4 linked regions of the Homo sapiens genome follow. The protein of the gene in region 2 purifies or fractionates together with the protein of the main gene of each other region. This does not show direct contact. Each region holds a gene or a part of one and is shown on either strand. Other genes may lie near its edges.

Region 1 (7,943 bases), on a different chromosome or scaffold from region 2:
TGTTATTTTTTTAAAAAGTTAAGTTGGTCAGCACCATTAGGGCAAAAAAGAACATTTAAATTAAGTTAAAAGTCAGTGGGCCTCTATAAGCATTAGTCATTCCATATATAAAAGCTTTTCAAAATTTATCTTTTTTAGGTCTCTTTTGATTACTTTCTTCATAGATGAGTAATTAGTAGGAAAACTAGGAGAATATACTGTTACAGAATCAAAAAGAGCAGTATATTTCAAGGAGAGAATAGTCATTATTATTAGATAAAACAATGGTTGTCAAAATGTAGTCCCCAACTGGAAGCATCAGCATCACCAGGGAACTTCAGAAATGCAGGCTCTAGAGTTACTGAATTGGACACCCCGAAGGTAGGAAACAGCAATATGTTTTAACAAACCCTGAAATCTAAAAACTATTGAGAGAAATAAAGGAGCCCAGTAGAATGAGGAATCAAAGATGTTAGGATGTTCACTAGATTTGGCAATTAAGAAGTCATGGATGCCCTCCATGAAGGTATATTCAGTGGAACAGTGAGGGCAGTACCATCACCTTTCCAGTTAGGGAATGTTTGGGAAGTGAAGAAATGTAATATGATTCTCCTTTCAAAATGCTTAGCTGAAAAGGAAAGAGAGGCCGGGCATGGTGGCTCACGCCTATAATCCCAGCACTTTGGGAGGCCAAGGCAGGGGGATCATTTGAGGTCAGGAGTTTGAGACCAGCCTGGACAACATGGCAAAACCCCATCTCTACTAAAAATACAAAAATTAGCCAGACAAGGTGGCCCACACCTGTAATCCCAGCTACTTGGGAGGCTGAGGTGGGAGGATCACTTGACCCTGGGAGGCAGAGGTAGCAGTGAGCCAAGATTGCATCACTGTACTCCAGCCTGGGTGACAGAGTGAGACCTTGTCCCAAAACAAAAAAAAAAAGGAAAGAGAAAATTCTAACTTTTTTTTTTGTCAGTTTTTTATGAAACAGAAGTCTTTGCTTGGCTATTTGTGATGATTCTATTGGTTTGCGTTTTATTGTCTAGTTTTACTCATTTTTTTTTCTTTTTTAAGAGATGAGGTCTCGCTCTGTGTCATGCGGGCTAGAGTACAGTCATATAATCATGGCTCACTGCAACCTCAAACTCCTGGGCTCGAGTGATCCTCCCACCTCAGCTTTCTGAGCAGCTGGGACTACAGGCACACACCACCACATCTAGCTAATTTTTTCTATTTTTGGTAGAGATAGGGGTTTCACTATGTTGCCTAGGCTGTTCTTGAATTCCTGGGATCAAGTGATCCTCCCGCCTTGGCTTCTCAAACTGCTGGGATTACAAATGTGAGCCACTGTGCCTGGCCTCAGATGATTTTTTTTTTAATTTGAAGGATAATTTTTAATTAAATTAATTTTAAATTTTAATTTTTTGTAGTGACAGGGTCTCGCTATGTTGCTCAGGCTGGTCTCAAACTACTGGCTAGAAGCCATCCTCTTGCTTTAGTCTCCCAAAGTTACACGTGTGAACTACTGCCCCGGCCCCCCTTTTTTTTTTTTTTTTTTTTTGAGACGAAGTCTCACTCTGTTGCCCAGGCTGAAGTGCAGTGGAACAATCTCGGCTCACTGCAACCTCTGCCGCCCAGGTTCAAGCAATTCTCCTGCCTCAGCCTCCCGAGTGGCTGGGATTACAGGTGCCTGCCACCACACCCGGCTAATTTTTGTATTTTTAGTAGAGACAGGGTTTCACCATCTTGGCCAGGCTAGTCTTGAACTCCTGACCTCATGATCCACCTGCCTCAGCCTCCCAAAGTGCTGAGATTACAGGCGTGAGCCACCACACACGGACCCTCATTTCTTTTTTATTGTGTAACTGTTTAACTTCATTTTGGTTCCCCCTAACCCTTCATAGAAACAGGAATTGAATGTGAAAGGAAGATAGTTATAAAAGTATTCCCTGCACCAATCCAGGAAGCTTATTTTCTTCTTTTGCCTGAATATCTCTATGTAGTATCTCCCATGATCCACATTTTCTATGTCACCCCAAATAACGTTCTTACTCCTGATACAAGACATTAAGAGTTCTACATCAGATATATTCACCATAGGAAACTTGTTCCACAGATCGAATTAATCCTTCAGAAGAAGAGTAGGATTATCCTCAAAGACAATTCCGGGGAATTATTAGCATAACACTATTACCTTTTCCCCAGAAAAGTTCACAACTTCCAAGAGGAGAGCTGCGAACTAAATGCCACACCTGAGCGCTGACAGACACCACAACCTAACGGGAGTCAGTCTTTCAAAGAAGTTCACACCAAGAACAGAAACTAAAATAAAAGGTTTGTTTGACCCAGAATGAGTCTTTCAAACACAGTTCTCTTATTCTGATTCTAGAAAAAAAGCAACGTAATTTTTTAAGAAAGTAAAACTTAAATAAATAAAGGTAACATAAGCAAACAAAATTATCTTAGGAGACATTATTGGAATTTTAAAATTAACTGGATTTTTTTTTACTCACTGAGTCTAAGATAAACCCAGCTAAACTGATTCATTTCCTTTTAAGGAAAGACTTTACAAGAATCTCTCATGTCAGATCTTTACAACCCCCTTTCTTATTATGAGTACTGAAGAGCTGACTATGGCTGGAATTATGTCAAATAGGGTTCTCAGGACAGAGTCAAATGGTTAAACCTCTCTGATTGATATAATACATAGCCCATTATCTCTTCTGTTAATCTGGACCTGATTAAAACACCAGGACCTCACCTATTCCAAACTTTTGAATAACTTCCTACTGTCCTCAGATAATGACCCAAACCCCTTAACATGATATACAGGCCCTCTGTCAACGAGACTGTGATTCTTTCCAAACCTCATCTTTTGGCCACTCAGGCCTCCATTTCCCATTCTGGGGTCTAGCCACAGTTACTGCTTCCAGTTTCCCATATACTTCTTGCCTCTGTACCATTGCACCTTTGTCTAGGATGCCTCCCAGTACCTCTCCTTTTCTCACTACATCTTTAAGCTCTGGCATAATCTCTATTAGGAAGAATAACTTCCCACCTCGCCCCACTGCTTCATATTAGATTATGTGTCTGCCTTCTGTATTTCTAGATTAAATACTCATCATATAATCCATCCTATAATCTATTTCTGGATATGATTTTCCCTTGAGGGTTCCTTAAGGGCTGGGAATAAATCTCATCTTTGTATTTCTGGTACTTAGCTCAGTGCCTGGCACGTGCAAATGTTTGTTAAATATTTAAGCCAAGCATGGTGGCACGCACCTGTAGTCCCAACTACTGGAGAGACTGAGGTGGGAGGATCACTAGAGCCCAGGAGCTCAAGGCCAACCTGGGTTATATGGTGAGACCTCATCTCTAAAAAAATTTTAAATTAAGATACATATATGTATATATTATTGAATTGCATTTACCTTTATTTCCTCTATGTCTGCTTTCTGGAGCTTTTCTCTGAAGTGTTTATCTGTTTCCAGCACATCAATCACTTGCTTGAGATATTCATCATAATAAAGTCCAGTATCCTTCAAATTAAGAAACCAACAGTAATGCTTCTGCAGGTTTTTCCTTGTTTGAATCTAAAGAGGTCAATCCTGTGAAACAATTTCTAGCAAAATGGCATTAAGACATATTTACTTTGATAGTTTCAACAAAGTGAAAAGCTATATTTCTGAAATAAATAGTTTTATATCAGAACCAATATCATCTTTTATTGTTACTTAAAGGTAGATTTTTCTTTTTTACGACACTCTCTAGTCCAGTAGATTTTCTATATAGTTCAGACAATGAAGATTTTACCACTTTGGTTTCTCCCCATTGTTATCTGCCTCTGCTTTGAATATAATACAGTGTTTTCTTGGCTAGTCAGGTCTGTGTTGGAAATGTATTACGATTAATTCTTCTATCTAATATACTAACTATATTAAATAAATATTGTGTAATGGTAAACAGCATATGCTTGGCCAATACTCTTTTCACTGCTATTTCAGAAATAGTTCCCAAGTGTACAATTTTATAAGTAATAAATATTAGCAATATTTTTGTTATAATTCCTCTCATTTCATTTAGTTATAGTTTCACCTCATTCCACCTCATTTAGTTACAATTATAATTCATTTCATTTAGTTATAATTCCTCCCATTTCACTTCATTTCACTTACTGGTGGTTCTATCTTCGCACTTTCCACAGGGTGAATATTTTGTACTTTTGTCTTGTCTATGTCAATAGGCACAGCTTCAAGAGCAGTAAGTAAACATGTAATCAAGAGAAAGCAATACTGTAGCAGGATGGTCCTCCACCTCATCTGAAATAAAGGAGTAATTATGGTAAAGTCATGAATAATGTTTTAACTCTATATACATGCATTCCGAATGTCACATTAATCATATATTTAATCTCAAGAGGTTTAATAAAACAAAAAAAAAATTATAGGAAAGGAAAGAATAGATTAAAACTTGTCAAAAATAATGCTTAAAATAGATCACTAAAGAAAATCAAGGGAGAAATGTTTTTGTAGCCAAAATTAAAAAGACAGAATACAATATTTTAAACTGTTTTTGTTTGTTTGTTTGTTTGTTTGAGACAGAGTTTCACTCTTGTTGCCCAGGCTGGAGTGCAATGGTACGATCACTGCTCACCCCAACCTCTGCCTCCTGGGTTCAAGCGATTCTCCTGCCTCAGCCTCCCAAGCAGCTCGGATTACAGGCATGTGCCATCACACCTGGCTAATTTTGTATTTTTAGTAGAGACGGGGGTTTCTCTCTTTTGGTCAGGCTGGTCTCGAACTCCTGACCTCAGGTGATCCGCCCGCCTTGGCCTCCCAAAGTGCAAAGATTACAGGCGTGAGCCACTGTGCCCGGCCTATATTGTTTTTATAGTATAAGAAAACATTTGGCTAATTACAAAAGCTTCAATCTAGCCATGGCTTTTTTTTTTTTTTTTTTTTTTTAAGGCAACACGTTTTACCCACAGAACACCATTTGGAAAAGAACACATAACCCCATTTTCACCACAACCCTAGGTGGTACATACACAGGAGAGTGACACATTTTACAAATGAAGAAATTAATAATTAAACCAATTCCCTTACAGAGCATTGTCTTGCCATTAACAAACCACTAAAACTTACATTTTACTATCTTTATGCCAATTTTTTAGCATCTTTATTGAGATATACTTCACGTCATAAAATTCACCCATTTAAGTACAGCATATGTCTAATCTATAAAGATGCTACCCAAAGTTTAGTTCTCAATCTTACAAAATCTTACAAGATCATCTGAAAGCAGATCAGAAATGCAAATTCTCAGGCTGTACCCAAGACCTCTGGGGTGGGGGCCAGGAACCTGTTTTAACAAACAGGGGGTTCCAGGGGGTTCCTATGTATACTAAAACCTGAGATCCACTCATCTCTAGGATACTAGAATCTCTAATAGGGTAGTATACTTCACAGAATGTCTTCTCACTATGAATCACCTCCTCTTCCCCACAATTACTTTTAATAACAAAAAAGGTTTATTATTCATTCATGCTTCTTGTCCACACATACATAGGTGTGCATTTTGGGTTTTTTGAGATATAACTCATAAGGCATAAAATGTTTTAAATTATACTATTCAGTGTTTTCTAGAATATTCACAAGGCTGTGCAACCATCTCTACTATCTAATTTTAAAACATTTTCATCATCTCAAAAAGAAACCCCATACCCATTATCAGTCACTCACTGTTACCCTTTTTTCCCATCCCCTGGCAACCACTAATCTACTTTCTATCTGTATAGATTTGCCTATTCTGGGCATTTCATATAAATGGAATTATACAATATGTAGCCTTTTGTGTCTGCCTTTTATCACTTAGCAGTATGTTTCCAGGTCCAACAACATTGTAACAAGTATCAGGACTTTATTTCTTTTTTATAGCTGAATAGATAGTCCATTGTATACATATGCCATATTTGTTTATCCATTCATGAACTGATGGACATTTGGATTGTTTCTTTCAGGCAGTTTTGAATAATACTTCAGTAAACATTTGTGTTTAAGTTACTTTGTTAACAGGTTTTCAATTCTTTTGGTTATATAACTAGGAGTAGAATTGCTGAGTCAGTTTGGTAACTCTAAGTTTAACTTTTTGAGGAACTGCCAAACTGTTTTCTAAAGCAGCTATATCATTTTACATTCTCACCACCTATAAATGAGGGTTCTAATTTTTCCATATCTTCCACGTGTTTTTGTCACTTCTGCTGCTCTCTTCCTCTCCTGCCAAGACTACCATAAATAAGAAGGAAAGTCAAGAGAATGTGTTTGTATACATGAGTGTGTGTGTGTATGTCCTAACAACACCTGACAACATCTTTTTTTTTTTTTTTTTTTGAGACAGAGTCTTGCTCTATCGCCCAGGCTAGAGTGCAATGGCCCGATCTCGGCTCACTGCAACCTCTGCCTCCCGGGTTCAAGCGATTCTCCTGCCTCAGCCTCCCGAGTAGCTGGGACTACAGGTACCCACCACCACGCCCAGCTAATTTTTGTATTTTTGGTAGAGCTGGGGTTTCACCATGTTGGCCAGGCTGGTCTCGAACTCCTGACCTCAGATGATCCACCCAGCTCAGCCTCCCAAAGTGCTGAAATTACAGGCATGAGCCACTGCACCTAGCCGCTGACAACATCTTGAAGTGACAAAGTCACAAAAAGTTTCTGAGAAACTGCTTTAAAACACTAACTGAATTTATGGTTCCTAAAGATTTAATTGATCCCCATGCTTATTATAAATAACAACAGAAACCATCTATTGAATGTTTACTATGTACCAAGCAGTATGCTAAACTTTTAAAATATATTAACGCATCAACTCTTACAATGACTCTGTGAAGTCAATATTATTATCCCCATTTCAAAGTACAAGAAACTGAGACATATCACTTCTAGTTCACACAGCAGTCAGTCATACAGCTAGAGTGTAGACCTGGGAGTGACTGACTCCAAAGCCTTTGTTGGCTTTTCAGGAGTGGTTCTCAAAAGTATGGTCCCTGGGCCAGCAGCACTGGCATCACCTGGGAATTTGTTAGAAATGCGAATTCTCAAGGCCTACTCCATATTTTCTAAATCAGAGACTCTGGGTGTAGGGGGCCTCACAATCTGTTTTAATAAGCCCTATAGGTGATTCTGATACATGCCAACATTTGAAAACCACTGCCCTAGAACATACTGCCTCCCTTTGCTCTATTATTTACCAACCTCACCTACAATGAGACAGAAAGAGAATGCTCATCTCAAAGGTAAACTTGGATCTTTAAAAAATAGAAAGTGGGAAAAAAGGAGAAATAGAAAGTGGGTTTTACACCAAGCAGTAAGGCAGAACTAAATTTAGATCTATATTCTAGTTACAGCTGCACCACTTACTTGCTATATGATCACAGGTTAGCCAATTAACTTTTCCCACTTCAGTTCCCTCATTTATAAAAATAAAAAAAATTTTAAATAAGAGAATTTAACTTGAACTTAGTATTACTTAAGTACTTAAATTCTATTATCTATTTATTCTTTTTAGTACAGATCTTTCCTGTTACGTAATCAGAAATACTAAACAGAAATAAAATTAAAAAAAAAGAAAAGCTGCTTGTATTCACACCATTCATTTAAAATGATTAAGTTATATGACTTGTAAATGCCTTTAAACTAAATATTGCTTACTCAGCCAGCTTAAAATTATGTTGGTAAAGCAAATAGCAGGCCTGGTTGCTGAGATACAAAGATTAACAACAAGGAAAATGAACTAGCAAAGAAAGTTCATATCTAGACACAATAAAAATGATGTAAAGCCAGGAAAGTTTCACACTTTGGAAACAAAATATGGAACATTATCCTCTCTGATCAAACTGAGAATTTGCTTCTGTGGAAGCAGAAACAAAGCTCCTCCTTGATTTCAGGTTTAGAGATTGTCAGACTTAC
Region 2 (7,682 bases):
AAATATCTGGGATCCCGATGTTCTTAATAAATCCTGACTTCCCAAGAAATGCTTCTTTTTTAAGTTGACAAAAGGAATGGGGAACTGGCAGGCCGCGCAGAAGGTTCTTGGTTTTAATGGATAGGCTGAATTGGATTAAGAAAAGTTGAATGCCACCTATGGTAATCTATTTGTGATTTTCTTCTAAATTATGTATTATAAATTCGTAGAGCTATAGAAAGCAATGAGTGTGTAATTTGGAGTGATTTTATATATGGCATAAACTTTGTTTTAACATAATTAGTACTGTTTTCCCCCAAAAGTACAAGTTTTTGAGTAGCAATGTCAGGTTAAGTAAAGAAACTTCATCACATCTTATAGGTAGTGTGTGGCCAATTGACTTAAAAAATACAAATAACATTTAGGAAGCAAATAGATTAAACACAAAAATAAAACTAAAGCATAGGAATTATGTTTTTGAGATACCTTTGGGCTTAGATTGGCATTGTTTTATTCTAAAAACCCAACTCAGTGGTGTAGAGAAACTTGTGTACCAAAATTTTAGTTTCTGCAGATGCTAGTGTTTTTTTGGATACAATTTTGACAACCAAGTTAGTAAACAAAATATCTTAACAGTTTGATGACACAAGCTACTGATGAGGGTTTGGAATATTAATTCAGAAGGTAGTTTCTCTTGTGTTCAAAATAGCTGCCATGGGGCTGTTACTTTTAAAGTCAAAATTTTCTTCTGAAGGCTCATTTTGGTATTTGATCTTAACCAAGTGATTATTAGAGAAATGTATCAACTCCATGCCATCTCCCAAAATAATTGTCTAAGAAAACTTGAAAGTGTAAGGTTTTAACCTTTAATTTATTTCTCTTAAATACATCTTTTGATATTGTTGTTGTGACATTTCTTTTTCTGGTTAGTGGGCTTTCCAGACTTTGTACCACTGCTTCTGTTTATTCATTTATATGCTTTTGTGTCCCATAAATTATTTCAGAAAATGCTGATAAAACTCAGGATATTGACATTTTTGTTGAGACTAAAAAATGGCAGTCGCTAAAGTAGGGACTCTAGAGTCTGGCTTACGTCAGTGTTGGTAGTTTAGATTGTCTTTGTCAACGTTTTTTCTTCTCTCTTTTGCTTTCTTTTCTTTCTCTTTTTTTCTTAGCACAGTTCTAGCTCAAATTTGTGTATTTTTTGTGTGCCTGGGCTGGAGATGAGAGACTGAGTCATAACTGATTTAAAAGTTTGTGTTATCAGGTATCTTATTTGAACATGGTCATTTTTGGCCACATTGCTGTTTCATACTAGGACTTGGGATGATGTAGCCAGAATAAAACTCAAGTTGCACCCTCCGGTTGGTGGAAGATTGCTGACCGTGCCGTTTCTGGGCAGGAGAAGACATCATGGTGTCCAGCAACTCAGCAAAGCCATTCTTAAGAGTCGTGAGGTCCTTCTGAATGTAAAACTGGAGCCCAGGAGAAGCTGTCCCAGGAGGGCTGTTAACTCCCTATAGAGCCAGGAGACAGGATAGGGGTTTCTAGGGTCCAACACCAGCTTACCTTGGAGTATGAATCTACCCATGAAGGATGAGAGATGTTTTGAAAAACTAGCCAGGACACACCCACAGGATCCTACTGGCTCCTTAGCAGCTGATTGGTGTTACATAATTAACTTAATTGGAGATGCATTAGGTCACTTGAATGTATAAGCAAGCACCTATGGTAGGCGCTACAGACATTTAAATCTCTTGGGAATTCGATGCTCCCATGGAATTTATACCAGTTATATGAATTGACTTAAGTATCTTGAAAAAGAAACTTTAGAGAAAGCATCAGGGGTGTGTACTCAGTATTTCAAATCAGAACACAAGATTGGAACTTTTGGAAAAATGGGTTCAAGCTTTCCTATTAGCCATGGAAATGCAAAGTTTAGCAGAAGCAAGCAATTAGGCAGAGAACAAAAATGTTAAGCATGGTGTTGTCTATCTTATTGAAGTGGTTGGAAATGAAAGCTTTTAATTTGATAGATTTATCAGTATAAAATTAGGGAAACCACGTGTGGGGAATGAATCAATTTAGAGCTTCGGGAATTGTGAGGTGACTTTTGTAACTTTTGTTCTGTGTGTGACCTGTGAACCACTAGGATGTGATCTGCCCTTGTGGGCAGGTCCAGCATAGTTAGGAGTTAGGCTTTAGCATAAATTTCTAGCTGCATCTGAGTCTCCTGGGATGGGTGCTCTTTGGCTGGTTTTGGCTGCGGATGGTGAGATCAGAGCAGCTCTTCCTGCTGCTGGCCCCTGCAATCAGTTGTTGGGATGCCAGTGCAGATCACTAAGTAGTAAGATTTTAATCAAACACGACCAGGTCCGAAATGCAGGTCATGAGTGTGAAATTCTCAAATTTACATAAAAAGTAGAAGTATAGACAGTTTAACATTTGGTATTAAAGGAGAGGAAATTGTAGCAGCTTTTCACGTTTCCCAGTCCCCATTAGAGGGCTTGAGACCTTGTACCTGAACAACCCATTTTGCACTCAGTGCTTTCTGATGCCTTAGGAGAATTGTTTTGTTTCACAAAAGCTGGGAAGGAAGAAGTCCATTCTGCAGCTGTTAGATCTGCCTCTCAGGAAAAAGTACTAACTTGTTCTTTTTGTTCCTGGCTTTCATCAGTTTGTGAGATTTCTCTATTTTTTTTAAATATAATTTTATTTCTTTCAACAAATATAAAATAAAAAACAACTTTGGAACAATGACTTGTCTTTCATCGTGGCTTTCTTTATATTAGATACCAAAAAGCAGTCCAGATGTTAAACAGCTGGGAAGCCCAGGCAGGTGCCTTGCTGTCTTTCCTGTTCCCACACTGGACGGCTGGGGGTAGGGGTGGGGAAAGTGGGGAGACAGGCAGAGGTATTTGTGTCCAAGTCTAGATCTCCCCGTTTGCCCTTAGTGGATAGGAAAATAGTTTTCTCTGAACATGGGATACATCTTTAGTTATATTTTTAGTCACTTGGTCTAAACTAAAAATTATACCAGAATAGGGAAAGGAATAACTGAATAAATGGGTTCCCGCTTAATCACCTAGTGTCTCAGAACATGGTTTCCATTTAGAGAGGGAAGAAATTCTTATGTTTCGAGATAGATAGTCAAGAATTTAAAGTAAGGCCTTTCCCCATCTGGAGTTTTGTAGTACATGTGGACACTGTCCTCATTTACGTCATAGAGTGTCTGTAGAGATGAATTTGCTGATTTCATAAACTGTTGAGTCCAGGGAGCTGATGTGAATTGAATATTTCAAGGGAATGCCATTTAAATGCTTTTCTTCTCTGATGCCTCAATTATTTTCATGTCTTGGGAAATAAATCTCTGCTTGCTGCATCTTAATGAAAAGTGGAGGTCAGGAATTATTTCTATGGGAAGTGTGGCCCGTTTCACTTTTTTGAATTAGTTGTGATTTAGAATCCAATAACGTGTCTTGGGGAATTTTACCGAGTGATGACATCTTTGTGAGGGGGGCCGGTCTTTTTCTGACAAAAGCACTTTTAGACCAGCTCATCCACTGCCTGTGCCTAGCCAGAGAGTTCATAAGCGTTTTACAGTTTTACATACATTCAGAGAACACCATTGCCTAGGTATTCTTTTACTGCAGTATCCCACTCCTCACAGAGCTCTAGGCCTGAAAGCTGTATAGAGGCATCTAGAGAAATGGGGGTTATAGAATTGGACTTGGAAAAGGAATAGGATTGTCAGTGAAACAGTCACGCGTTACACTTTTTGCAGCCCAAACGCCACCTCTTGTCCCTCCCTGTAAAGAAGCTGTTAAAACCAGATGCGCTTCCACATCGCCACCTTTCACTTCCACCTTCTAAATGGAGCTCCGGTACCTGTCTGCTTCACCCACCCCGACCCCCATGCAGAGCCATCCTCTTCGCTTGCCTGGACTTGGTGACTGGCTCCTCGTTGGTGTTCCTGGATGGCAGCGTCACTGCCTGCTCTCCAGAACCATCTGTTGCTCCCCATTGCACCCGGGGTGAGACTCAGTCTCCTTGTGTCGTGGCGTTTCCCCTCATCAACTTAATTTCCCTCCATCCTCCTGTGTCACTCTACTTCGGCTCTAGGGCTTTTCCAAGCTCTTTTCTGCCCTTCCTGGGACAGCTCCTTCTGTCTGGAATGAAGCATCTCCTCTGGCTTTTCACTAACAAGTTCCCTCTCTGTCTCAGCCCCCTGGCTGTCTACGCTAAGCCTATCCTGTTGCTTGCTTCATGGCACTTTGCAGTGTTTGAGACAATATATTTGTTCATGCTGGTTTGAGGTGAAGGCCTCGCAGCAGACTAGAGGCTCTGGAAGGAGGGGTCATGTTTGTATCCTGCACTGGCAGAGTAGATGCTCAATTATGTATTGAATGAATACCTAGACACTGAGTTTCAGAAGGGTTGTAGCACACTATACAGCTTTCTGGCGGGGTCTCTAATGGATTTCTGAAGCTACATGAATTTCTGCAGAGGTTAGAAGAGACAGAGTTAGGTACAAACATGGGGGTAGCGGAGGTAGCTACTGGGGCCCTCTAGACCTGTGCTTCCAAAGAATGCCCTTTGAGACAGGTGGAGACTCACGCCTGTAATCCTAGCACTTTGGGAGGCCAAGGCAGGAGGATTGCTTGAGGCCGGGAGTTCCAAGACCAACTTGGCCAACATAGCAAACTCCTGTCTCTATTTATTAAAAAAAAAATTTTTTTTTTAAAGAGCACCCTTTGACCTACTGGCTCAGGAAAAACGTGACCTCTCTGTTCCTAGTGACCCTCTGAAAAGTGTTTAGATAGAAATAAGAGATTTCTCCTTGCTCCTTTTTGTTCACTTCTTGATAATCAGAGATGTTTATGTGGAACGGGCAGCTTTGGTATGGAATGTCTGAAAGGAAGGAGAAAGATGTATGGTGCACTCAGCTCTGTTTCTCAATTAACAGAACTAAACTGTCCATTTTGAGCTTCATCCTGACTTTGAGTGGTTTTATCCTGAAAGTGGTGGAAATTAAAGCCCTGTACACCAGACTGTGTCTGTCACAGGGGAACAGGGGTGGAGAAGTGCTTGGTGAACTCTTCAACTTTCCTTACACTCAGAAGATACTTTTTTTTTTTTTTTTTTTTTTTTTTTAAGAGACAGGGTCTTGCTCTGTTGCCCAGGCTGGAGCGCAGTGGTGCGATCATAGTTCACTGCAGCCTTGAACTGGGCTCAAGCGATTCTCCCACCTTAGCCTCCAGGGTAGGTGGGACTATAGGCGTGTGCCACCACGCCCAGCTAGTTTTTTATTTTTACTTTTTTTAAGAGACGGGATCTCCCTATGTTGGCCCAGGCTGGTCTTGAACTCCCAGCCTCAGACGATCCTTCAGCCTTGGCCTCCCAAGGCATGAGCCACTGCGCCTGGCTAAAAAGACATAATTGCTACTGCTCAATGTCACAGATGGATAGCTTAGGGAATGTATCTGTACCAGCAGAAAACCTTAAAGAATGGATGTTATAAATCTAAGAAGCAGATAAGATAAATGGTGATTTGGAACTGAAATTGGCTTTTATTTTAATGTGACCACTTTATAAGCACTTCTGTGTTATTACCATAGGAAGAAATCAGTTTGTATTAAACTCTTTGGTGACTTTTTTTTTTTTAAAAAGGCAGTCTTGCTTTGTTGCCCAGGGTGGAGTGCAGTAGCATGATCTTGGCTCACCGCAACCTCTGCCTCCTGGGTTCAAGAGATTCTCCTGCCTCAGCCTCCGGAGTAGCTCGGATTACAGGTGTGTGCCACTACGCCCAGCTAATTTTGGCATTTTTAATAGAGATGAAGTTTTGCCATGTTGGCCAGGCAGGTCTCAAACTCCTGACCTCAAGTGATCAAAGTGCTGGAATTACAGGCGTGAGCCACTGTGCTGGCCTTTGGTGACTTCTGAAAACGTCTCTTAAGCTACAGTTTTCCACCCCCTCATCCTCATGGTTTCATCTGTGGCATCCTTCTCACTTGTCATCTTTCACCTTGGCTTGGGAACTCTTGGATGGGAGCTCTGTGAGAAGGCAAACCTGGAATGGTGTACAGAATTCTAGAAACCAGCTCCAGGGGTGGGCTGTTCTGCGGGACCCTGGGAGAACTGGACAAGCAGAGGCAAGGACAGATACTTCACCAGGCATGGCTGGGCCCTGGCTGGCTTCCTGCCTGGTAGAATTTGTTCAAGGACTACACTTAGGGAGGACAAGCGGTCTCTGCAAATTGGCTGTGGCGCTGCCTTCGTTGGCAGTGTCTCCGACAGATGCTGGCTTTGGCTAGTGTGTCCCACATGAAAAAGAAATCAAGGACAAGAGATCCCTGCAAGTCTCAGGTTTTAAATATCTGCAGCTCAAGCGCTACATGATTCTACCACCTTCAGAAATCTAGTTTGGAGGCAGTGACCGTATCAGAAAGACTTGTGTTAAATCAGTCCGCCCTTTAACTTGCGCAAAGGCATGGCGCGGGGTGACTTGGCCAGTCTGACCTGAGTGCCTAGGATCTTCCTGCAGCGTTGCTTGCCCCACCTCAAACCTCGGGCTGCGCTGGTACTGACAAGCTAAAACCACCTTGCCTAGGAGTACTTCTCACACTTGTCTGTCAGGAGCATCTGGCGGGCGCTTGTGAAATACACAATTCCTGGGCCATTGCCCCTAGACGTTGGGTCAGATGGTCTGTGGGGGTCCCAGGAATCTCTTACCAAATGCCCCAGTGGTTCTGATGCCTGTTAGGCTTGGGAAACCTTGCAGCAAGTGACAGGGTGACACCAGAGCCCCGAGTCCCAGGGGCTCAAAGCAGGCTCCTCGGGGAGGACTCTGCCCTTGTCCCGCCAGGCCAGTCTGAGGCAGAAGCAGCCGTTAGAGGGCCTGTGCTGCCAGCACCATCTTCCTGGAACTGACTTGATACTGACACCAGGTGAGCCATCTTTTCAGGGTGCACGGGGTCCCAAATGCTCATCTGCAAAGGAATAAAGGGGAAGCCACGCACAAAGGACCATTTTAGGAAACCTTTTATTGCAAATGCCATTCTGCATATTGATTTTTGACAGAAAGTATCAGAAATGCTTCTTTCCTGGGAAAAGGAATATAAATGACAGCAAGACACATTTTAGTTGCTACTAAAGAACAGCATTATTTTCAATCATTTTAAGTCGCTCATTTAATAAGCAAGGTATAAAACAGATTAAAGGTGGGAGCCTGCAAAAGGGTAATTAAAAAAGTGTTTCCTCCCCGGGAAACAGCACTGTTTGGTCTGATCAAATGCCGAAGCTGGGATCTGATTCTGGGTGCCGTCTCTCGCTACTGGAGTGCTGACCAGCAGGCTGCCCATCACGAAAAGAGGTTGCAAGGCCAGGCCCCCAGGTGCGCTGGGATTTCTGGCTGGCTCTACTTGGGGCCAGAGAAGGGGGTAAAGGCCTTGTCACAGCCTGCCATGCATGCTTCAATCTCTTCCACAGTGCGGGGCACGCAGGTCAGCAGCTCTATGCCGCTGTCAGTCACCACGACGTCCTCCTCGATGCGGACCTGGGTCAAGCCGACAGACACACATTATCATAGAGCAGCCTCATGTGCCAGGCTAGAGGGCCGGGCCCATTCCAGGCCCACCCCACCATGGGATGGGAGCAGCTGACACTCCCTGGGAGACGGGTGGCCTCCGGGCTCCTTCATGGAG
Region 3 (7,943 bases), on a different chromosome or scaffold from region 2:
GAGGCAGGCAGATCACTGGAGGCCAGGAGTTCAAGACCAGCCTGGCCAACATGGCAAAACCCCGTCTCTACTAAAAATACAAAAATTAGCCAGGCATGGTGGTGGCAGCCACCTGTAATCCCAACTACTTGGGAGGCTGAGGCAGGAGAATCACTTGAACCCGGGAGGTGGAGGTTGCAGTGAGCCGAGATCGTGCCACTACACTCTAGCCTGGACGACAGGAGCAAAGCTCCATCTCAAAAAAAAAAAAAAGAAAGAAAAAAAAATTAATGAGATAGGAAATGCTTTATGTATTTACAAGCAACTGTTACTTCTTGCTCTGTGAACACCCTAGTTTTCAAGTGGTACCTGGGTGTGAGCTGTTTTTAATGTAAGGATGTTAGCCCTGCATCTGACACATGTGGATAACATATTTTCCAATGTTATCTGTAGCTGGCCTCCACCCAGTTGGCCAGCCTTTTCTATGTTCCTTCTGCTCATTCAAATATGTTTCAGGCACTGACTGGGCATGGTGGCTCACACCTGTAATCCCAGCACTTTGGGAGGCCCAGGCAGGAGGATTGCTTGAGTTCAGGAGTTTGAGACCAGCCTGGACACCACAGTGAGACCTTGTCTCTACAAAAGATTTTAAAATGGTCCAGACATAGTGGCTCACTCCTGTAATCCCAGCACTTTGGGAAGCCGAGGTGGGCGGATTACCTGAGGTCAGGAGTTTGAGACCATCCTGGCCAACATGGTGAAACCCCGTCTCTGCTAAAAATGCAAAAATTAGCCAGGCGTGGTGGCATTCACCTGTAATCCCAGCTACTGAGAGGCTGAGGCAGGAGAATCGTTTGAACCTGGAAAGCGGAGGCTGCAGTGAGATTGTGCCATTGCACTCCAGCCTGGGTGACAAGAGCAAAACTCCATCTCAAAAAAACAAAAAACGAAACAAAACAAAAAACCCACAAATGTAGCCAGGTCATTGGTGCACACCTGCAGTCCCAGCTACTTGGGAGGCTGAGGTGGGAGGATCACTTGAACTCAGGAGGCCAAGGCTTCAGTGAGCCATGATCATGCTACTGCACTCTAGCCTGGGTGACAGAACAAGACTCTGTCTCAAAAGAAAAAAGTGTATCAGGCACTATTCCAGATGCTGGTGAGATAAGAGTGAACAAAACAATATCCATACTGCGGAATATTATTTGGCCCTAAAAAGAAAGGCAATTCTGACACATGCTTACAGAATGGGTGAATCTTCAGGTCAATATGCTGAGTGAAGTAAGCCAGTCACAAAAATAAATACTGCATGATTCCAGTGATATGAGGTCTGTAGTTAAATTCATAGAGACAGAAAGTAGAAGGGTCATTGTCAAGGTCTGGGAAGGGGAAAATAGGGAGTTATTGTTTAATGGGTACAGAGTTCCAGTTTTATAAGTTGAAAAGAGTCCTGGAGATGGACGGTGGTGATGGCTGTGCACCATTACGAATGTGCTGAATACCACTCACTGTACACTTCCACATGGTTAAGATGGTGAGTTTTATTTTATGCATGTTTTACCACAATAAAGAAATTGGGAGGGAAAACAAAGTAAACCAAACACTAATTTCCCTGCCCTTATGAGGTTTGTATTATACAGTGGGGGAGACAGACACAAAAGTAAGATAAATAAGTAGGACTTCTGTTTCAAGCCATGACAGAATAGCTGGTGCTGAGCTCCTGCCTTTGTCACAAGCTACTAGAAAATAGGATAGAATAGGCCGGGCGCGGTGGCTCACACCTGTAATCCCAGCACCTGGGGAGGCCAAGGCGGGCGGATCATGAGGTCAGGAGATGGAGACTGTCCTGGCTAACACAGTGAAACCCTGTCTCTACTAAAATACAAAAAAAATTAGCCAGGCGTGGTGGCGGGCACCGGTAGTCCCAGCTACTCAGGAGACTGAGGCAGGAGAATGGTGTGAACCCAGGAGGCGGAGCTTGCAGTGAGCTGAGATCGCGCCACTGCACTCCAGCCTGGGCGACAGAGCAAGACTCTATCTCAAAAAAAAAAAAAAGAGGATAAAATATATGAAATAATTGTTTTTATACATCAGACAACAGGCAACACAGATAGTGATTCTTGAGAGACAGGAAACAAATGAGGTGGGTGGTGTGATCATCCCGGCCTTCTGCCTGGAGGAACTTTCAGGACCACAAGGAGGCGGAACCCAAGCAGAGCCTGGTGGCCACACAGAGTTGAGATGGTGATTGTAGTTTGGGGAGGCAAAGGGAGCTGGAATGTATAGATAGGAGTGAGCTATGTAGGGAAAAAGCCTCCAGAAATCCACATGGTATCCTGTGGAATCCTGGACTGAAGATGAAGCTGTGCTAGGCAGAGTGAAAAGCTAAAGGCTGGTCGAAGAACTACTAAGCAGCCCCAAGATGCAGAATGCCCAGAGCTCACCCATAGCAGGTCCATGTTTGTGTTCCCGTCAACCACAGTGGAGAGAACTTAAATACACAGGATATTCACCAGAGATCCTAGGAGGGCCACAGCTTCAAAACAGTGCTAGATTAATCTTACGGAGTAGACTATTTAGATGTACTCTAATAAAGCTTAAAAACAAGCCTCAAAAGGATCAAGCTGTAACTTAATTGCCTGTCAGATAAAGTTCAGTATGTTTTGAAGGAAAACAACATAAATTCCAGACATTCAACAATTGAACACCATAAAGCCCAGGATCTAATAAAAAATTACAAGACGTGAAGAAGGAAGGACTTAAAGGAAAACATGAATCTAATGAAGAGAGAAAAATAATCTACCAAAAAAAAAAAAATAAAGCCAAATGTTCTTTTAGAGTTGAGAAAAATACAGTATCTGAAATAAAAAATTCATGACATGGGCTTAACAGCAGATAGGCTACTACAGATGATAAGATCATGATCTTGAAGATTTAACAACAGAAATTATACAAACAAGCACAGCAAGATGAAAGCCCAAGGGGTGGAGCAGGGTGGAGGCAATGGCCTCAGGGGCCTCGCTAGTGCCAGGGGAACATGCATAACTGGGTTTTCAGAGAGAAACCGGGGTGAGGAGCAAGGGCAGAAGCAGTTTTAGAGAAAATAGTCTCCAGAAGCTTTCCACATTTGATGAAGACCATAGATTCACAGACCCAGTTAACCCTGACACATCACAGAAAATAAACTACACCATGGCACGCTATATTCAAGTTGCAAAAAACAAAACAAAATAAGAAACAATGATTAAAAAGAACATTAAAAAGCAGCCAGAGGAAAAAAGATAAAAATGACTGCTGGCTTCTTATTAGAAATAATGCAAACCAGGGCCGTGTGTGGTGGCTCACACCTGTACTCCCAGCCCTTTGGGAGGCTGAGGCAGGAGGACTGTCTGAGCTCAGGAGTTCGAGACCAGTCTGGGCAACATGGCAAGATCCCGTCCTTTTTTTTTTTTTTTTTTTTTTTTGAGAAAGTCTTGCTCTGTTGCCCAAGTTGGACTACAGTGGCATGATCTTGGCTCACTGCAACCTCTGCCTCCTGGATTCAAGCGATTCTCCTGTCTCAGCCTCCCCAGTAGCTGGGACTACAGGCACGTGCCACCACGCCCAGCTAATTTTTGAATTTTTAGTTGAGACGGGGTTTCGCCATGTTGGTCAGGTTGGTCTCAAACTCCTGACCTGAAGTGATCCACCTTGGGATTACAGGTGTGAGCCACCGTGTCTGGCCCCATCTCTATTTATTTTTAAAAAATATTTTTAAAATAATAAAAATTTTATAAAGGAGAAATAATGCAAACCAGAGGATGAAAGAACAAAGTATTTAATGTACTTAAAAAGGAAAAAAAAATCTCTCAAGCTAGAATTGTGTATCCATAATATTAAATTCCAAAAATGCAGGCAAATTAAATAGATTTTTCAAACAAATCAAAGTGAAGGATTGGTTTACTGCAGAATGCACGACAAAACAATAGAATTCTTCAGGTGGAAGGGAAATACCAAGTGGAAACTCAGATCCACACGAAAGAATAAACAATGCCAGAAAAGGTAAAATAAGTGAGTTTTCTTGTTTTTAAATTTCTTTTTTTTTTTTTTTGAGACGGAGTTTCACTTTTTTGCCCAGGCTGGAGTGCAGTGGCACGATCTTGGCCCACTGCAATCTCCACTTGCCAGGTTCAAGTGATTGTCGTGCCTTAGCCTCCTGAGTAGCTTGGACTACAGCATGTGCCACCATGCCCAGCTAAGTTTTGCATTTTTAGTAGAGACAGGGTTTCACCACGTTGGCCAGGCTGGTCTCAAACTCCTGATCTCAGGTGATCCACCTGCCTTGGCCTCCCAAAGTGCTAGGATTACAGGCATGAGCCACTGCGCCTGGCCATTTTTAAATTTCTTTAAAAGATAAGGTATCATGGGGATCGTAAGATATTTAAATGTAAAATATATAGATGGTGAAAATTAAAAATGTATTTTTAAATTCTAATCGCTAAAACAACCCTCCCTCCAAACAATCAACAAGAAAACACTAATACAGAGGTATAGCAAATAAGCCAATAATAGAGTTAAAATAGACTGCAAAAAAAAAAAAGTCACTCCAAAAAGTAGGTAGGAAAGAGTAAACAAAGAATAGATGAGACAAATAAAAAACAAATACTAAGATGATAGACTTAAACTCAACCATTACACAAAATGTAATTAAATGTAATTATATTAAATGTAAGCAGTCTAAAGACACCACTTAAAAGGCAGAGATTCTCAGACTGGAGAAGAAAGCAAGATCTAGTTACATACTTTTTATGAAAAACACATTTTAATTATAAAGGCATGGGTTAAGAGGAAATGGATGGAGAAAGATTCCATGAGAGCGCTAATCATAAGACAGATGAAGGGGCTGTGTTAATAACAGACAAGATACCCTTCCAGGACAAGGATAAAGAGGATAAGCAAGAAAGAAGAACATTTCATATGATAAATGGATCAATTCATCAAGAATTCCTCAATTCTAAATATGTATGCACCTGATAACAGACTTTCAAAATACAAGAAACAAAAACTGATGGAACTGAAAGGAGAAATGGATCCATTGACAATTATAGTTGGAAGGTTTCAACATTCTCCTCTCAGTAATTGGAACAAATAGGCAGAAAAATCAACAAACATAGTATGTGGGTTATCAGAAACTTGTTAAGACTGGTTTTCTATTTCTGCCTTAGAGATGAATGATGTGCCTCTCAAATGTGATATGAGCATGGAACTGAGTTTGAGAATTCCTGGTTTGCAGCTTTCCTTCCTGGAATGCAATTCTTTACCTGTAAAATGGGGTAATATGACCTTATCCACATGGTTGCTGTGATAATTGGATCAGAATGGAGAGAGGTATGGACACCATAAAGCGCTGTGCAAATTCTGGCTATTTTTTACTATCTTTGGTGGCCTAAGGAACAGGATTCTTCTGTGTTACAGGGTCAGGCACTACCTGGCCCCTAGTGATTGATCACCAGCCTGCCTGCCTCCCTGCTAGCTGTGGTACCCAGGTTGGCCCCTGCCTGTGGTCTCAGCACTCTGTGCCCCATGCTCTGTTCCTAGGCAGGGCATGCAGAAGGAATCGTTACGCTTCAGGAACATTGCTTCAGTATCAGCTCGTTTCCCAAACCTGCTCCCTAATTTTTTGCCAGGTGCCCTTTCCCTATCACCTGGTCCTCTGTCTCTGGACTCCTTATTCCTGTTGTTTGGTTTCTTTGTGTTGTTCCCTGGCTTCTTTGCCAACTCCCTATGCACTAATTCAACCAGCCTACCACCAGCCACACCTTCCTTCAAGGGTGGGCTGCACATAGACCCACCTGGACTCATTGAGGCTCCCCCTGGCCTGGTACATCTTTATCACCTGCCAAATTCTGGCTCTGATCTTCCCAGACATGCTCTGGTATCCCATCATGACACTACTCAAGACCCAGTGCCACTAATAAGGGGCAAGGAACATTTGCAGCAGGCCACCTGTGTTCTAGGGAAACTTGGATGACCTTTTAAAGTGGGGAAAGGAGAAAGCACAGGACATAAGCAGGGTCAGCAGCACGGCTAGAGGAGAGACAAGGAAGAATGATGCCTTACACTCAGCATGAATCCTGGATTAGACTGAATGTATCTGAGGACACTACTACATTCCCAGCATCACAGGGTGACACCTGTGCCGCAGTCTCTGCAGGGCCACGTGCTAGCGGAAAGGCAATAAACCTTAGGAGATTTCTCTAAGGGAATCCTAGCACTGAAGACTTCCACTCGGGGATCATTTCCCAACCCCTTTAGAGGAACTGCAAAAACTTCTTATATTCTGTTTCTCTTCCTGCTGACTCCACAACACTACTCCTGAAACCATACCTGTGACAAGACAAATACAAGGCAAATTCCAAGATGACTAACTGCAGAAACCCATCCAACATTTCCTTCTGTTGTGCTGGAATATATCTGTAGGGAATGCGTCTGCCTCTCTGCTGAGGTTTGCAAACCATTTGGTCAAATGACAATTGTAGGTTCTACCCATACCTAGATCAGGGCTTCTCCAACCTTTGTGTGTACTGCAATCACCCGGAGTCTTGTAAAGCAAAGATTTTGACTCAGTTTTCATCTGGGCTATGGTGGGGCCCAAGATTTTGCATTTCTAACAAGCTATGTCAATGCTGCTGATCTGTGGCTCACGCTGAGGAGCACAGACAACACCCAATACAAGTCTACAAGAGCGCCCACCCCAAATCTCATGATGTGCGGAGTCACTCAGCATGAAGGCTTACAGGAGATTCTTGTATTCATTCATAAGACATTTTAATCAGTGAGACCAGTTTAGTCAAAGTGTCATCAACCCCAGCGTGTATTAAACTTACCCAGAACTCTTGCAGCTCTGTTAGATGGCTGATATTTTCAATCTTTTTGATTCTATTTGATGCAATGTCCAACATCGTGAGTTTGTTCTAAAAGAAGGAAATAAAATGTTTCCTGGATTACCTCTGATCAACAGTGATTTGCATGACCACGCAGGCAGTGTCAAGTGCTGACCTTAGGGCTGCAGGTGCACTGCCCTCTCTGCCCTCACAGGGTAAGGGCATGCTATGGAGGGTGACGAGACCTGCTTGCTTCCTGCAGCCCTCCCTGGGACAGTGTTTCCATCAGAGCCTGCCCAGCTATCTCCCTGAGCTCTCCTGATCGCTGGAATTTGAGACTGTGTCAGACTCCAAGCCCAGTCCTCCCAGATCCCTGTCCATTGAGACAGACCTAGTGAGACTGATGGTCCCAGGAAGAACCGAGTAACCCCCTGACGCTCTGAAGAAAGGCTGACAATTGTAGAAACATTTACTTAGTGCTCATCACGAGGAAATGTACGACCAAGTAATCTTCAAAACAAAGTTCCTCTCTTCATTTAGGGATGAGGAACTTGGGGCTCAGTGGGGCTAAGAATCTGCCCAGGCGCACAGTAGCAGTGGGAGAGGCAGGACTCTCAGACCCCAGGCCTACACTCTTGTCTGGGAAAAGGGTCCCGGGAGCATAAGTGCAGAGAAGGGACCCATGCTGAGGACTGGGTGCTGGGCCTGCTGAGCACCTGCTGCAGGGTGTGTGCCCCCACTGGGAGACAAGAGTGTGTTTTTAGGATCTTCTACTCTGAAAATGCACATCAGTTACTCACTTTCCAATACATGTTAGCTAAGCCTGAGTAATAATTTTGTTTCTCATCAAAAGGAAAACATTTACAAGCTGTCTGAGAACCTCTGACAAAGTTCATTCCCTTCTCTGCCCTCACGCTCTGCTCCCTCCTGAGTCCCTTCCTTGGTTTTCTACTGCATTTTTGGTATTCCAATTCCAAAGCCTTCTAAGTTTTAAGGGAAAGTTAAAAAATTTCTCAAAAGCAAATACTCCTCCCCCCATCTCCCCTGAAATGTACCCAGCCAGTAGCTTTCCCAATTCGAAAGCGCTATGGCTGTGGCCTG
Region 4 (6,604 bases), on a different chromosome or scaffold from region 2:
GAACCCAGGAGGCGGAGGTAGCAGTGAGCCGAGATCACGCCAAGCAGAGATCACGCCAAGCAGAGATCACGCCACTGCACTCCAGCCTGGGTGACAGAGTGAGACTCCATCTCAAAAAAAAAAAAAAAAAAGCCGGGCATGTTGGCAGGTGCCTGTAGTCCCAGCTACTTGAGAGGCTGAGGCAGGAGAATCGCTTGAACCCAGGAGGCAGAGGTTGCAGTGAGCCCAGATCATGCCATTGCACTCCAGCCTGGGCGACAGAGCAAGACTCTGTCTCAAAAAAAAAAAAAAAAAAAAAAAGCCAGATGCGGTAGCTCACGCCTATAATCCCAGCACTTTGCGGGGCCGAGTCGGGAGGATCACCTGAGGTCAGGAGTTGTGGGCAAAGGATTACCCAGGTGCCAAGGCAAGAGACTGAAGGCACAAACTGTTGCAGTATAATAAAGAAAATAGTTAGAATAAAGAGTAGTTACAATACAAATTAGATATAGAGATGATCATGGACAATTATCAATCATCAGTATAAACATTATAAATCATTAGCTTTTAATATTACTCTTTGTGGCATTACTAATATAACCTAGGAATAACCGGCAGGTATAGGGTCAGGTGCTGAAGGGACATTGTGAGAAGTGACCTAGAAGGCAAGAAGTGAGCCCTCTGTCACGCCCGCATAAGGGCCATTTGAGGGCTCCCTGGTCAAGCGGTAACACCAGTGCCTGGGAAGGCACCTGTTGCTTAGCGGACCGCGAAAGGGAGTCTCCCTTTCCGTGGAGGAGTCAGGGAACACTCTGCTCCACCAGCTTCTTGTGGGAGGCTGGATATTATCTAGGCCTGCCTGCAGTCATCCAGAGGCCTAAACCCCTCCCTTTGGTGCTGTGCTTCAGTGGTCACGCTCCTTGTCCACTTTCATGTTCCTCCTGTACTCCTGGTTCCTCTTTGAAGTTCTTAGTAGATAGCGGTAGAAGAAATAGTGAAAATCTTAGTCTTTGATCTTTCTTATAAGTGCATAGAAGAAAATGCTGACGTATGCTGCCTTCCCTCTCTGCTTTGGCTACCTAAAAGGGAAGGGACCCCTATCCCATGATCACGTGATTTGCTTGACCTTATCAATCACTTGGACAACTCACCCCTCCTTACCCTGCCCCTTGTCTTGTATTCAATAAATACCAGTGCGCCTAGCCATTAGGGGCCACTATCGGTCTCCGCGTCTTGGTGGCAGTGGTCCCCAGGCCTAGCTGTTTTCTCTTTATCTCTTTGTCTTGTGTCTTTATTTCTTACAATCTCTCGTCTCCGCACACAGGGAGAACACCCGCTAAGCCCAGTAGGTCTGGACCCTACAAGGAGTTCGAGACCAGCTTGACCAACATGGTGAAACCCCATCTCAACTAAAAATACAAAATTTAGCCGGGCGTGGTGGCGCACACCTGTAATCCCAGCTACTCAGGAGGCTGAGGCAGGAGAATCGCTTGAACTGGGGGAGGGGGGGTGCCAAGGTTGCAGTGAGCCGAGATCCTGCCACTGCACTCCAGCGTGGGCAACAGAGCAAGACTCCATCTCAAAAAAAAAAAAAAAAGGATCACTCAGGCATGTTCCTGGAGGATGACTTGAGTATTGCAAAAGTTCAGGGAGAGATAATGAACTAAAGCAGTGGCTGTTGTGTTTGAAAGAAGAGGGTGGCATCTAAAGATGCAGTTTGATGTCAACTTGGAAAATTCATATGAATGTGGGGATTGAAGGAAAAGGGAGGCATTGAGAGTGAGTCTAAGGCTTCTGGCTAATGATGATGATGATATCAGAGAGATGATGGTGACATGAAAAGGAGCAGATTCAGAGGAAGGTGAGTTCGGTTTGGAACATGTTTGAGGCATCTGAGGTCAGCTGGACACATGCTCCCGCAGCTGAGCAGAATGTTCTGGACTGGGGATACGGATTGAAGAATTGTGGAATCTGCAGGCATGGATGACATGTCTTAGAAAGAGCAAGGAAGGAACCAAGGGCTGAGCCCTGGGATAGAGCAGCATTTAAGAGGCCTGGGGAGGAAGACTCGGAAGGGTGGCCAGGGAAGTACAGGGAGCCAAGACAGCAGGGTCACAAAAGCCAAGGGGAGTTGAGTTTCAAGAAGGAAGGAGTGAAGAAGTATATGTCATGGAGAGGTGAAGCAAAACAAGGACTGTTGTCCAGAAGAAATGTCCACTGTATTTGGTAACTAATGCCATTTGGAAAAGCAGTTTTGAGCAGAACAAGAGGCAGATCAAGGTGGGCTAAGGAATGAATAGGGGGTGAGGAAGTGGGGATGGGAAGCTTGGGATGGTTTCTGGATATCTGACTTTAAGAAAACAAGTAAGATAGAGAAACACACAGTTAGAGAAACACACAGTAAAGGGAGGGACTCTTATGGGAAGGACCTTACAAGGAGATGAGACCACTGAGACAGGCATTAATAAAGAAGATGCACCGAGGCGGGCGGATCACTTGAGGCCAGGAGTTTGAGACAAGCCTGGCCAACATGGTGAAAACCCATCTCCATTAAAAATGCAAAAATTAGCCGGGCATGGTGGTGTGCACATGTAGTCCCAGATACTCAGGAGGCTGAAGCAGGAGAATTGCTTGAACCTGAGAGGCGGAGGTTGCTGTGAGCCGAGATTGTGCCGCTGCACTCCAGCCTGGGCAACAGAGCGAGACTCTGTTTTAAAAAAAAAAAAAAGATGCAAACTCCTCAAGTCTCCATCAGTTTATCAGTTTTAGATATGTTATATATTTGTATATTGAGATTCTATATCAGTATCTCAAGAATGAAATATCTAGAAGGGATTCACTTTAGCCCAGAGAAAGGAGATTTATCACTGGTCAGAAGGGAGAAGGAAAGGATAAGTGCAGACACAGATAGGTAATTGTGTAGGTGCATGTGGGCAGGGGGCAAGATAAAAGAATTTCAGGCTCAAGTGCCTTAGATGACAAAGTTGTTGCCTGACAGAGGAGGGTGGAAAGGGTGTAGACCCTTGCTCTGGGAGATAGGAGAGGAAAGTGAGAAGCACCGAAAGTCCGGGCAGGTTTGTAGGCTCTTCAGTTTTACTTGCCCCAGTTTTTTGGGTGTGCAGTTTTCTCCATCTGAGAAGCTTTGAGATATGAGCAGAGAAGAGAGGTGGAGTATGCTTTAAAATGGGGGTTGGAAGGGTGATTGTAGTGGATGATCCTGGGACAGGAATATTGATCTGTTGGCTGTGGAGAGATGGTGAAACACTGGAGTGGGAAGGAATTGATGCCAGGACTGAGACTGCTCTGGGTCAAAAATGAAAGAACAAGATAGTGCTTTTGGTAAAAATTACAAACAGTATAGATATCCACCAGTCGTAGACTGGTTGAATGAACTGTAGGATAAATATGTGAAAAATTATATTTTAATGAGGTCAATTGATATATATTGACATACAAAGATCTCCAGGATATATTGTCAAGTAGGAAAAAAATCAAGCCTTATGTAAATCTATAGAAAAACATCTGGAAGGATATATTCTATCAAGTTCCATTTCATCCAAAGAAGGCAGTGAGATTGGGAAGGGATAAAGAATATTTACAACAACATAGAGTTATCATTGAATTTATTTTATTTTAAAGTTATCTATGTACACCAAGTAAATACACACAGGGGGTTGCGCAGTTTGGTTTGTCTTCCACGCTGGCATGCAACATTTTGGCAGATGTGAGTGGGCAGGCCAGGTGCCCCTTGCAGTGACCCTGGCTCTGAAAGGGATGCGGTGAAGGTGGGGAGCAGGAGGAGGAGGAGGATGTAGTGTGAAGCTTCTGGTGAAGGGTTTGCGTGTGTGTTGTTTCTTTTTTATGTAAGTGAATTATATTTCCCTTACATCTTGCTAAAGAGAAGGCTGCTCCCTCTGTGTCATCTCTCTCCTCATCTGCGCTACACCCTCACATTTCCTTATGTGTTTTTAAAAGAACCATGTGGTGGCAACATTACATAAAACCCCCTGGATTCTTAAGTGCCCTGCTGACAGCAAATATTAGCCTAAGTCCACAGGCCCACAGGAACCTTCCTTCCACCCTAGTGGGTCTGGAGACAGCATGGCTTGTCTACCCCACCGTTGCCCTCTTTTCCATGAGTTGCAGCTTTAGTGCAGAGGAGCCAGATTGGACCCCCTTCCTCAGAACAATGGTTTTCAAACTACTCCACAGAATCCTCAGGGTCTCTTAGGACTGTTCAAGGGCTCATTTGCTGAGGAGCCTTTGAACAGTCAGTCCTAAGAGACGCTGAGACTTCTTCCACCAAAAAAAAAAAAAAAAAAAAATGCAAACTGCCCAGGTCTGCATTACTTTATTTTTTATATTGGGGTTCTATGTAAGATTTGTTTTTGAAAAACATTTAAAAATCACTGCTTTGGATTTATTCCACACTCCACTGGTATTTTTCCCCCTGCAGTTCTCCCTAACTGCTAAAAGGAGCTCAGCAGGTAAAGGGAGCAGGGCCTCTTTTCCTTGAAGGAGTCATGGGCCAGTGCAGCCTGCGCTTACCAGCTGGCATTCCCACTCAGCTTCCTTTCCTGACTTAGAAGTTGGGTGATAGGCTGCCCTGCCGCTGGAGAATCTTGGTCTTCCTCCTAGAAAAGACTGGATATCAGGACACCAGACTTTCTCTCCTGGTTTGGAATGGCTAGTGACCTCCATCCCTGCAGTTACCTAGAAAACCACCTTAGCACCATGTGGAAGGAAAGGACCGTCTGAAACTAAAACAACAGTCCTCTTCAGTATGGAGGGTGCTGCATATGGGCTGAGAATGGCTGGGAGAAGACCCCTCAGGGTCAAGCCTTAGAGCTTCCCACCTCTTGAAAATCCACCCTGCCCCTTTCTTTAAAGTGCACTTAATACCAGATGGGGACATTAGAGAAGGAACTCTTTGTGGAGAAAAAAAAAATGTACATTGGGGAAAAGTCAGGCTCCAGCTTGAAAGGAAGGCAACTAGAGAGATTTTGCCAATGAGCTGGAAGCCCCCAAACCAAGGGGTGGAGATGGGAGGAGCATGCCGCCCAGTATGGAACAAGAAAGAAATCCAGCTCATCACTTCAACTTGAGGGCACTGTGACAAAAAAAAAAGGCTCAGAAATTTCCCAGCCTATTCACCCCCAAACCCAAGGAATCAATCATTTTGACTACACCTGCCTGTAACCATCTCCATGGACAGATGAGCAGCCATTGACAGGCTGCTGGGAGCAGTCTGCCTCCTCCATTTTTCAAAATATTTTAAATCAGCTCTGGGTTCTGGTCATGAGCTCTGGGGCAGGGAATATCAAAAGGAGCTTGAAGAAAAAGGGAAATGGTCCCTTGAGCAACCCATTTCTCAGTCCAGGGGAAAACAGGAAGAGGGAGGCAAAAGGCAGACTTTGTAGGGCAGAAGTAACACCTGAATCCTTTGATTAAGGTGAGGGGTGTATGAAGAAAATTATATGTCTCAATTAGCAGCCCTTCCATTTTACCTTCCCCTGTGCTATATGTGAAAGAGGAGGGAGGAAGAGTCTATTTCTCTGTCTCATGATGCTAAGACATTCTTCTGCTTAAGGCTTTGTGTGTGTGCATGCGTGTGTGCATGTTTGTGTGCGTGCGTGCGTGTGTGTATGAAGGGTCACAACCCTCTAGCTCCCATTTTTCCTTTTGTCATCTCTGTGACCTCTACTCAGTGACTAACACCACTCAGTGTGAGACGAGTAGATGAGAAAGAAGAAACATTCACCCTCCTCCCTATTGCCCCAAATAAGGAAGGTAGACTATGCTTTGAAATTGCTAAATACATCAGTAGATACTTGAGAATAAGACAGAAGAGAGACATAGCAGCAGCTTTTGATATATAGATACAGAGTACAAAGAGATACAGAGTAAGTAAGAGAAGACATCAAACATAGTACAGTCCAACAACAGGGGTTGGGGAGGGAGTTAGTATCAGAGACCACAGGTTTGCAGCATGCTGAGAAGAGGCCTCAGTCCCTCTTAGAAACTGGGAAAGAAAGAGAAAGAGGGTGTGAGGGCCCAGCTTGTAGCTCAGTCACAGAACAGGAACAGGTGGCATCTGCACACACTTTGGTTTACTGTCCTGTTCCTTTAATACCAACAAGCAGACCCCCCTACCACCGCCCCCCGTGACCCAGGCTTGCACCTCCACCCCTAGGTCTCCCCAACTCCTCTTCTGCATTCCTACTTCTCTGCTTCTCAGACTTTTCTGCCTGTGTGTGCCTGGTTTACTATTCTGGGAAACCCCTGGAGAGGGCTCAGCTTAGATGCAGCCCAGTAAGAGACTGGCCATGTTCTCTGTGCCACTTCTGGGCCCTAAAGCAACCTTGGTGAGAAACCCAGTGACACACAAGAACAAAGAAGGTTCCTGTGCTGCTAGAGGAGAGCACCTGGGGACAGAGGAGGAAAAAGAGGGGCTTTGCCACCTCCACTGAGCAAGATGGGAGGGGAGCGCTGACTGATTTCGTGGGGCGTTTCCTAAAGCTTACTGGTGGCATATACAGATGGGAAGAGGATGGGACACAGGTGCAGGCGTGAAGCAAACATCGCCTTAACTGGAGATGTCTTAGTTCCAAAAACACCTATCCAT

What was found.
Region 1: the proteins of CEBPG (region 2) and NUCB2 purify together in Homo sapiens (affinity purification with mass spectrometry; one large-scale study listed by BioGRID and IntAct). This does not show direct contact.
Region 3: the proteins of CEBPG (region 2) and PPP1R7 fractionate together in Homo sapiens (co-fractionation; one large-scale study listed by BioGRID). This does not show direct contact.
Region 4: the proteins of CEBPG (region 2) and KIF5A purify together in Homo sapiens (affinity purification with mass spectrometry; one large-scale study listed by BioGRID and IntAct). This does not show direct contact.

Annotation. Positions count from the first base shown.
Region 1 is NC_000011.10:17,291,679-17,299,621, reverse strand, and holds part of NUCB2 (nucleobindin-2 isoform 1 preproprotein), read right to left. Parts: intron 4,299-7,943; coding exon 4,155-4,298; intron 3,519-4,154; coding exon 3,411-3,518; intron 1-3,410. UniProt on the Homo sapiens protein: Calcium-binding protein which may have a role in calcium homeostasis. Acts as a non-receptor guanine nucleotide exchange factor which binds to and activates guanine nucleotide-binding protein (G-protein) alpha subunit GNAI3.
Region 2 is NC_000019.10:33,379,948-33,387,629, forward strand, and holds the end of CEBPG (CCAAT/enhancer-binding protein gamma), read left to right. Parts: 3' UTR 1-2,739; downstream 2,740-7,682. Other genes in the region: PEPD (xaa-Pro dipeptidase), read right to left, coding at 7,397-7,534. UniProt on the Homo sapiens protein: Transcription factor that binds to the promoter and the enhancer regions of target genes. Binds to the enhancer element PRE-I (positive regulatory element-I) of the IL-4 gene. Binds to the promoter and the enhancer of the immunoglobulin heavy chain.
Region 3 is NC_000002.12:241,168,770-241,176,712, reverse strand, and holds part of PPP1R7 (protein phosphatase 1 regulatory subunit 7), read right to left. Parts: intron 6,933-7,943; coding exon 6,846-6,932; intron 1-6,845. UniProt on the Homo sapiens protein: Regulatory subunit of protein phosphatase 1.
Region 4 is NC_000012.12:57,583,615-57,590,218, reverse strand, and holds the end of KIF5A (kinesin heavy chain isoform 5A), read right to left. Parts: intron 6,002-6,604; 3' UTR 3,586-6,001; downstream 1-3,585. UniProt on the Homo sapiens protein: Microtubule-dependent motor required for slow axonal transport of neurofilament proteins (NFH, NFM and NFL). Can induce formation of neurite-like membrane protrusions in non-neuronal cells in a ZFYVE27-dependent manner.